Linked DNA regions of Homo sapiens: region 1 is linked to region 2. Evidence: fine-mapped expression QTL. A gene starts in region 2. The other region holds a variant in brackets. All regions are shown on one strand. Distances are from middle to middle.

What was found. PIP is the estimated chance that this variant, and not a neighbour inherited with it, causes the effect.
Region 1: its variant is the best candidate, but not a certain one, in a credible set for the expression of LPAR6 in anterior cingulate cortex (GTEx, PIP 0.56).

The regions. Positions count from the first base shown.
Region 1 is chr13:48,592,086-48,597,300 of GRCh38, reverse strand. All of the region lies in intron 2 of LOC105370202 (a long non-coding RNA gene), which reads right to left. Among named protein-coding and RNA genes, the nearest start is that of LINC01077, 4.1 kb to the right of the region's middle. The variant G/T (reference allele first, on the strand shown) is at 2,700.
Region 2 is chr13:48,410,987-48,416,487 of GRCh38, reverse strand. LPAR6 (lysophosphatidic acid receptor 6) reads left to right here and starts at 3,375. Exons shown (of 1, transcript NM_001162498.3): 1 at 3,375-5,350. The coding sequence starts at 4,065. The coding sequence ends at 5,099. All of the region lies in intron 17 of RB1 (RB transcriptional corepressor 1), which reads right to left. RefSeq lists an enhancer at 4,390-4,891.

The sequences.
Region 1 (5,215 bases), 180 kb before region 2:
AAACTTTCCTTACAAAAGGGTAACTTCTACTGTTGTTTTCAGAGATTCTCCTCTGCTGCAGTTTCTCAAAATAATCAGCTCAAAATAATCCTCATGCTAAAGAGGCATATTTGGGGGTGGCATGTTTCTGGTCTCCTAAAGTCATAGGAGAATTCAGGACATGTCCTGAATCCCATCATTTGTCTTAAGTCTTTTACTACTATTTGACATATATATGGCAAATATATATATACATGTTAACGGAAAGGCATCCAGATCCAGACCCCAATAGAGGGTTCTTGGATCCTGAGCAAGAAAGAATTTGGGGCAAGTCCACAGAGTAAAGTGAAAGCAAGTGTATTAAGAAAATAAAGAAATAAGGAAAGGCTACTCCGTAGGCAGAGCAGCCCTGACAGCTACTGGTTGCCCATTTTTATGGTTATTTCCTGATGACATGTTAAACAAGGGGTGGATTATTCATGCCTCCTCTTTTTAGACTATATAGGGTAACTGCCTGATGTTGCCATGGCATTAGTAACTGTCATGGCACTGGTGGGAGGTTAGCAGTGAGGACGACCAGGGGTCACTCTCATCACCATCTTGGTTTTGGTGGGTTTTGGCCGGCTTCTTTACTGCAACCTGTTTTATCAGCTAGGTCTTTATGACCTGTATCTTGTGCCGACCTCCTACCTCATCCTGTGACTTAGAATGCCTAACCTCCTGGGAATTCAGCCCAATAGATCTCAGCCTTATTTTACCCACTCCTATTCAAGATGGAGTTACTCTGGTTCGAATGCTTCTAACACACACACAAGTGTATACACACACATACGTGTGTATTTGTGCTTACATATATGTGTATATGTTTGTATACACATATATCCATACCTTTTCTTGATAAAAGTTAAAAATGAACAAAGAAGGCTAGGGTATGCAATGCATGATAAGGAAATTTTCATCAAAAATAGCTAGTGTCGACAAGCAACCACTTTAGATTTAAGATGCAACCTTCAGCTCTCTGAAAAATGCTCTGACGTGGTCCTCTTCACTCCCACACTGAAGTCAGCATGGCTTACCATACTCACTACACAAATCTCCTTTCAGGCTCCACCTGTTCCATTACCTGAGCAAACAACAGCAAGCAGCAACCCATGCTGCCAACTCACTCTCTGAGGTGAGTTCCAGAACCTACAGGGTGGCATTATCACATTCTTGGGCTGACAGCACTTTTGCCTCCGTGGCTCCCTCTTCATTAAAAAAAAAAAAATTAAAAATTGTATTTGAAACAACTGTATTGGTTTAAAAATTGACATAGTCTAGATTCATTATTAGGTATTCATTAATATTCTATTTTTTCTTCTGATTTTGAAAGTAATTAAAACACTTTCATGGGTCCCTAAAAGTCTCATGGGCTCTAGGCACAGTGCCTGCTCCACCTAATGGGGAAATTGGCCCTGAGAACCTGAGGCAGGAAGAAGGGACAGATCAGCAAAGCACTCTGCCACCCTCTGCAGGTCCTGGTAGAAAAGTATCAAAAGCAAAGAAATAATAAAACCCTACTGGGGCAAAGTCATCCTTACATCAGCTGGTATTTGTTAGGGAGTTGTCAGGTGCAACTTGCAAAAACATCTTGTCAAATGTCCACAGCTTTCCTGTGAGGTGACTCTCACGTCCACAGATATCCAGTGGCCCCAGAGGTTAGGTTTCATGTCTCAGTTCACCCACGCCATTCATGGCAGCCCAGGAATGTGTAACCACTCAGTCTGGCTCTTCCCTGCCTGTCAAGGAGGTGAGGCCGTAGGGTGTGGGGTGGGTGGTACACCTGCTCCCTGTCACCCTCCGAGTCCTCCCTTCCACACCCACACTCTGCCTTGCATGGAAATTAAACATCAGTGACTAATAAATTTGAAGTCAAAATCTAATGTGCTTTTTTTCACTCGCATCCGTGTGAAGAGACCACCAAACAGGCTTTGTGTGAGAAACAAGGCTGTTTATTTCACCTGGGTGCAGGCGGTCTGAGTCTGAAAAGAGAGTCAGCGAAGGGGAGATAAGGGTGGGGCCGTTTTATAAGATTTGGGTAGGTAAAGGAAAATTACAGTCAAAGAAGGGTTGTTCTCTGGCGGGCAGGAGTGGGGGTCACAAGGTGCTCAGTGAGGGAGCTTTTTGAGCCAGGATGAGCCAGGAGAAGGAATTTCACAAGGTAATGTCATCAGTTAAGGCAAGGACCGGCCATTTTCATTTCTTTTGCGGTGGAATGTCATCAGTTAAGTCAGGAACAGGCCATTTTCACTTCTTTTGTGATTCTTCAGTTACTTCAGGCCATCCGGGCATATACGTGCAGGTCACAGGGGATGTGATGGCTTAGCTTGGGCTCAGAGGCCTGACACTTTAACAATTCCATAAATGTGCTTTCCTTTGCCTCTACAAAGATCAGACTTTTTGTGACATTTTCCCCCTTCTGTTTTAGTTCTTTCAGGCTGTGCATTCTGTTTAGTTCATTACAAAAATATCATAAACTGGCTTGTTTATAAACAACAGAAGTTTATTTCCCACGGTTCTGGAGCTGGGAAGTCTAAGATCAGGGTGCCAGCTGATTCAGTGTCTGCTGAGAGACCATTTCCCGGTTCGTAGACGACTGTTTTCTCACTGTGCCCTCACATGGAGGAAGCGGGGAGGGAGCTCTCTGGAGTCTCTTTTATAAGGGTGCTAATCCCATCTGT[G/T]AGGACTCCACCCTCATCACCTAATCACCTCCCAAAGGCCCTACCTCCAAATACCATCACCTTGGGGGTTAGGATTTAAACATATGAATTTTGGGGGGACACATTTAGTCCATCGCATGTTCAAATCTGAAATATTCCTTAGTGGCATCCCTGTGTTCCTGTCCTGTTAGTGTTGTGCTGCTGACCTGGGTGGCAAAGGCTAAGCCTCTGCTCCAGCTGGTCCATTTTGCAAATGCTGTACTGTGAGTATTGCATTTGCACAGTCAGGGTCCCCTTTCCCCTGAAAATTCAAATGAGGCCACAGACAGCTGGCAATTTCAACTCCACCTCATTTTCCCCAGCTCTTACTCATTTCTGTGCCTGAAAGGGACTGAATGGGTGGGGGAAGGTGACAATTTGCATTTATATAGAATCCCAGCTTTAAGTTAATTAATCAAAACACTAAGCTACCCTGACAAATCCTTCAGGGAAAGCAGAAAGCTAAACCCTGCTGCACCTTGTTTGAAATAATGATTCAGGCTGCGGCAAAATCTCACAACAGGCCCCCTGAAGCTCGCGACCTACCACCTGCGGAAAATCTTTCTGCAGGAGGACTTCATTCACTTATCCCGACAAGATGATCTTCCTTTCCACTTTTCCTATCTCACCTCTGTACCCACTCCCCAGGCAAAAACACTCCATAATTAAAGAGAGAAAATATGCTCAAGAGGAACAGAGATGTTTCCTGAAGTAAATAAGAAAAGTAAAACAATCCATGAAGGGCTGGGTTGCACGCCTGCCCTCAGGTGGGTTGAGGCAGAGTGCCAGGCCCCAGGCAGTGGACACACACCAAGCAAGCATGACACTAGCAATCACACCCTTTGGGTTCCTTACGACACACTGTGGGAGGCTGTGAGGAAACCATCGAGGGAAGAACAGGCAGACCTGATGCAGAAATTCGATAAAAGATAGAATTCACCAGGACATTAACATATGCAATGAATATTGGGGTGGGACCCAAACTGTCCCTGGAGTAATTACCTTAGGGGAATAGGATGGAGAAGGAGGTGCAGGCATTCTTCACTTTATATTCTTCTGGAGGTTTGTACGGCTGGCCCTTGAATAACATGGTTTGAATTGCACTTTTATGCAGGTTTTTTCAATAAAAGTTACACTGAGTGTGCTGCCTCTCCTGCCTCTCCTTCCACCTCCTCCACCTCTTCCACTTTTGCCACCCTTGAGACAGCAAGACCAATCCCTCCTTCTCCCCCTCCTCTTCCTCAGCCTGTTCAACGTGAAGAAAAAGATGAAGATCCAGCTTCACTTAATGAAGAGTGAATATACTTTCTCTTCCTCATGATTTTCTTAACACCATTTTCTCTTCTCTAGCTTACAGTTTATAATGCATATAACACCCTATATATGCATTAATCAACTGTTTATGTTATTAGTAAGGACTCTGGTCAGCAGTAGCCTATTAGTAGTTAAGTTTTGGGGGAGTCAAAAATGATACATGGATTTTCAACTGCATGGTGAGGGGGGGGTGGCGGTTAGTGCCCCTAACCTCTGTGTTGTTCAAGGGTCAACTGTACTATTTCTGTTAAACAAAGAGCATGGATTGCTTTTACCACCAAAAAAAGCATTATAAAAAATAAATTATTTTCAGCTACTGCATAAAAGAAATTAAATTACAGCCACAGGAAAACCCCAAGGGGGAAATGATAAGGGCAGAGAAGCTAGAATTAAAGGACCTAAGTTCCTTATTCAGCTTTCTGAGCCTCAGATTCTTTATGCAAAAAACTGAGGAAATTGTAATACTTGCCCACTGTGGTCACCCCAGGACGATTAAATGAGATAATAGGTGGAAAAAAGTGCAGCTTATTTTTCACTTGGTCCTTTAACTTTACACAGTAATGAAGTTTAAATGCTATGGCCCCTGTAAACCAAAAATAAAATTCTAAGCTCCCCAACAGACTGAATGGACCCCTCTGGATTCAGGGGGACCGAAAGAAAACCAGAAAAACTAGTTTAGGCTATGAGGGGAAGACAGGGTGTCAGATGTGTCTCCTTATACTTTCTCCTTTCTGGAATTCCTTTCTGGAATTCAGGCACAATTGACCCGCATTAACATTAAAAGAGAGATCTTATTGCTACCTTGTAGCAATAAGACATCAAATTCCAACCTGACTCTAGTATAACATCACATGACAGATAAAGAAGGAAATCAAAATATTTTACTCCAAAATATGTTTCTTTGCCATATTTTGAAATGGTCCTGCATAGCCATCTTTTATGGGGGTAAATTTGCATCTGTAAAGAATCTCTGTTAACATAGAGTCTTTCCCCTTCCAGGGCCTCCTGATCCTGAAAAGATTAAGAGTCTAGCACCTTTCAAAGGCCTAAATAAGAAACATTTGCCAACTATTGTCTCTAAGAAGTCTCAACTATGAGACTTCACCTATATAATAAGAACCTTGGTCTCCACAACCTCTTATCTTAACCCGGACACTCCTTTCTATTGATTTCAGGTCTTTAGA
Region 2 (5,501 bases):
TGAAACCCAGGGCCTGGGTGGTGTAGGCACCCGAGGGAATTGCCTGGTCTAAGGGTTGTGAAGATCACGGAAAAGGCATAGAGTCTGGGCCGGAATGCATCGTTCCTCGTGGCACATTCCCTCATGGCTTCCCTTAGCTAGGGGAGGAAGTTCCCTGGCCCCTTGCACTTCCCGTGTAAGGCGATGCCCCACCCTGCTTTGGCTCGCCTTCCATGGGCTGCACCCCCTGTCTGACCAGTCTCAATGAGATGAGCTGGGTACCTCAGTTGGAAATAGAGAAATCACCCACCTTCTGCGTTGATTTCGCTGGGAGCTGCAGACTCCAGCTGTTCCTGTGTTCACCATTTTAACATCTATCTGGCTCTGTTTAATTTTCGCTCCCCCCAAAAAATCCATATAAGAAATAAGTTGATTCTCAGAGTTAAGTTCCAGAAGTGTAGAGATCTCACATTAAAATAACAGTTTGCCTGAGTTTATCAAATACAAAAGTATCTATTAAATATAATTGATTATATGGATTCATTACCTCCCTTTGCAAGTAGTTACTCTGTATTTTTCCAATTCTAACCTAAGAATTTTTCAAAGTTTCTAAATTCCCCTTTGGTTCCTTAATTAGAGGCCAAATTTAATATCTGGAAAAAATGCAGTATTCAATTATCTTCTTCCTGTTCAAACAGTCCCTCTGCTATGGCTCTTCCTCAGTAGAAACAACTGGCAACAAAATTCAAGTTTATGATTCATTCATCAGCAAACATGTGAGAATCATCTACAAAGAACCAAGAATTGTGGTAAGAATTATACAAACATTTACTATGATACTGATAATAATGAAAAGCCTAATTCAACAAATAGTGATCTATCCATTTTTAAGCCCCAGTAACTCAAACATTAAAAAACTATAAATGAACAGGCCGGGCACGGTGGCTCACACATGGAATCCCAGCACTTGGGGAGGCTGAAGTGGGTGGATGACTTGAGGTCAGGAGTTCAAGACCAGCCTGGCCACATGGTAAAACCCTATCTCTACTAAAAATACAAAAATTAGCTGGGTGTGGTGGCGGGTGCCCATAATCCCAGCTACTCGGGAGGCTGAGGTGGGAAAATTGCTGGAACCTGGGAGGCAGAGGTTGCAGTAAGACAAGATCGCACCACTGCACTCCAGCCTGGGCGGCAGAGTGAGAAAAAAAAAAGAAAGAAAGAAAAAGAAAAAGAAAAGAAAAGAAAAAACTATAGATGAATGACTTAAGTGAATAACAAGTCAAGTGAGTAATGACAATATGTAGAAAAATATTCCAAGTAGAATTAATAAATTTTAATTATTTGAATGAGAAAATGCCGCCATATTCAAAATGAAAGTAAAAGTAGGATGAGATCAGCATATACAACTGCATATATTTCATTAATTAAAGATGACTAAAGAGGAGACTATCAATTTGAAAGAAGATTACTAAGATTTTGTTTTTTTAAAACATACTGAACCAAATAAAAAAAAAATAACAGTAAGACATAACTACTAACAGAAAATTTTTTCCAATGAGAATACAAGCTTATTAACCACTCCTTTTTTCATTAATGCTCACTCAGCTTCTACCAGCCTTCTAATAAGAACACACACATACATCTTTTCTATACCAAATGTGATATAAAAGATATTCAACCCTTCAAAATTTTAAGTATTGGTTATAAGTAATACTCATCTTTTTTTGTCATTTGATAATAGATGAATTTTCTAGTCCAGACAGTAGAAATAGATTATAGTTCATCAACAAATGACAAAAATTGCTGAGTGTGAAAGAATGGTGCAAAACAACACAAAACATTTTACTGTAATAAGTTATTTTTAAGCTAGCTAAGTAATTTATGAGAAAAAAATAAATTGTTCTTAAATTACTTAATACCCAAGAGGAAGAGTTTCAGCTTAAACTAGACCAAATTAAAAAAATAATAACAGTAAGGCATAACTAGATCTAGCCTTTTCTGAAGAAAATGATATTTAAAACAAGAAAAACATGTGCCATAGAGGTTGTGATATCCTCAATCTTTGAGGAAATAACACCTACATTTAAGTACCCTCACCTTACACACACTTTCTTCTTCTGATTTTGGAGTCTTTAAAATATAAGTATACTTTTTTTTTTTTTTTTTGAGATAGTCTCGCTGTCGCCCAGGCTGGAGTGCAGTGGCTTGATCTTGGTTCACTGCAACATCTGCCTCCCAGGTTCAAGCGATTCTCCTGCCTCAGTCTCCTGGGTAGCTGGGACTACAGGCACGCACTATTGCCCTAGGCTAGTTTTGTATTTTTGGTAGAGATGGGGTTTCGCCATTTTGGCCAGGCTGCTCTCAAACTCCTGATCTCAGGTGATCCACCTGCCTCGGCCTTCCAAAGTGCTGGGATTATAGGCGTGAGCCACTGCACCTGGCCCAAAATATGAGTATACTTTAAATATAAACATATAAACCATTCATAGAAACTTTTAGATGGAGACAAAATCTGAAATATATTTCAATATATAGTTAATGTCATATTAAGGGGTTAAGGGAAGAGCTGGGAGGAAGAAGGAAGATAAGACTATGAACCTAAAATTTTGCCAAGTAGTAGGATTTTTATTCTCTAAACCTTATTTCAATCAATTTAAGGTTAAAAAAATTTTGCTTAAAAAGATGCAATTTCATTTTGTGCTTAGAAAGTAAAATTAACACCACACCAAAGATAAACATTCTTGAGTTTGTTCTTTTGGAGAAATGAGTAATTTAAAAATTTAAACAGCTCTAAAATATTAATACAACTGCATAGGAAAGAGGAAAGAATGTTAGAAAATTGCTTATCAAAAACTAATGAGACCCAGGATAAGAGCTACTCATAATGATAACAATTAAATATTGAGTATTTTTCAGAAACCAAGAGTCAAATGCTTGTTATACCTTAAAGGTTAAAGGCCCCTGTTTCATAGTCATTAAACAGTTCTTTGAAATGCTATGTTAAGATATCACTAACAATTTCAATTTATAAATACACACCCATACACATTTTCTTTTCTAAATTGTCATATCCCAAACACGAAAACAATCGAATAAGAGAACAGGCTGAATAGTGATTTTTTTCTTTCAATTATTACTACTGAAACAAATCAAAACAACTCTGAGAGGTTGCCAGCACCGCAGAAGGCATTTCCACATAAAAAGAGTTAATGAGCAGACCACGCAGTTCAACAGCCAGTGACCATTTGCAAGCCTCCTAGGTATATTCCCAGCAGACACATTATCAGATTAAAGGAAGTGCAAACAAACTGGGCTGAAAGTTTCTTTGTCCAAACCCAGCCTCTTCTTCCTGTGATGTCATATTACAAATCTAGGAAGCCTTTCTTTTTCACTTCAGAGAAAGCGACCTCAAGATACAACTGGCAACTGAGGAAAAGGCCTCAATTCAACAAGAGCTAACAAGCTTGGGAGTTTATTTCGGAATCTTTAAAAGACTCTTCTGCTTACCCACAATCTGGGATCCACTGCAGGAAAACAAAAAAGGAAAACTTCATTTAAAAGAAGCAAGAAGTAAAATGGGACAAATTGGGAATGTTTAAGTCTCTGAAACTCTGCACTGAAAAGAAAATAAGATTGATAACTTAAGCTTAACATTCTGAGGCATAAAGAAACATTAACTTTGGAGTATTCATCTTGACTACTGAAATACAAGTTTAGAAGACAAGTGGTTTCATTCTGGTCACAGATCACAGCTTTTCTTTAAATTTATAATCCTATGGGTTGGACTCGTTGACTGTATTTTTTAAAGGTTGCTCGTCAGTTAACTGAGCCTTGGAATTCATGGATTTTCTAAAGACTAACAAATGAAAATATTTTCCTGTTGAAGAACCCAGCGGAAATTTTACAGCAACAAATTTCATGTTTCTTTTGGGTATTTCTGAGAAAAAGGAAATATTTATAAAACCATCCAAAGATCCAGATAATTTGCAAATAAATTGGAGGTTATAGAGGTTATAATCTGAATCCCAAAGGAGACTGCAGCTGATGAAAGTGCTTCCAAACTGAAAATTGGACGTGCCTTTACGATGGTAAGCGTTAACAGCTCCCACTGCTTCTATAATGACTCCTTTAAGTACACTTTGTATGGGTGCATGTTCAGCATGGTGTTTGTGCTTGGGTTAATATCCAATTGTGTTGCCATATACATTTTCATCTGCGTCCTCAAAGTCCGAAATGAAACTACAACTTACATGATTAACTTGGCAATGTCAGACTTGCTTTTTGTTTTTACTTTACCCTTCAGGATTTTTTACTTCACAACACGGAATTGGCCATTTGGAGATTTACTTTGTAAGATTTCTGTGATGCTGTTTTATACCAACATGTACGGAAGCATTCTGTTCTTAACCTGTATTAGTGTAGATCGATTTCTGGCAATTGTCTACCCATTTAAGTCAAAGACTCTAAGAACCAAAAGAAATGCAAAGATTGTTTGCACTGGCGTGTGGTTAACTGTGATCGGAGGAAGTGCACCCGCCGTTTTTGTTCAGTCTACCCACTCTCAGGGTAACAATGCCTCAGAAGCCTGCTTTGAAAATTTTCCAGAAGCCACATGGAAAACATATCTCTCAAGGATTGTAATTTTCATCGAAATAGTGGGATTTTTTATTCCTCTAATTTTAAATGTAACTTGTTCTAGTATGGTGCTAAAAACTTTAACCAAACCTGTTACATTAAGTAGAAGCAAAATAAACAAAACTAAGGTTTTAAAAATGATTTTTGTACATTTGATCATATTCTGTTTCTGTTTTGTTCCTTACAATATCAATCTTATTTTATATTCTCTTGTGAGAACACAAACATTTGTTAATTGCTCAGTAGTGGCAGCAGTAAGGACAATGTACCCAATCACTCTCTGTATTGCTGTTTCCAACTGTTGTTTTGACCCTATAGTTTACTACTTTACATCGGACACAATTCAGAATTCAATAAAAATGAAAAACTGGTCTGTCAGGAGAAGTGACTTCAGATTCTCTGAAGTTCATGGTGCAGAGAATTTTATTCAGCATAACCTACAGACCTTAAAAAGTAAGATATTTGACAATGAATCTGCTGCCTGAAATAAAACCATTAGGACTCACTGGGACAGAACTTTCAAGTTCCTTCAACTGTGAAAAGTGTCTTTTTGGACAAACTATTTTTCCACCTCCAAAAGAAATTAACACATGGACATTTTAAAGTCTTTAGTATAAAGAAAATTTGTATTCAATGTGTTAAGCATTAACATGTATTTTATTTGTGTATCCACTCCATCTGATTTTTCTGAGCCATTTTGATTTGTTCCTTCATTAAAAAAAATCTCTTAAAGTTATTTAGTGTCTAAAAGTGACTGACTTAAATTATGTGGTGCCAATCTGTAATGTCTTTGAATTCCTTTTTATATTAAATGATTTAATTTACTAAATTATTTTATACTAATTTATGTTTATGTAATATTTTATTCAACATACCATTTTTATTTT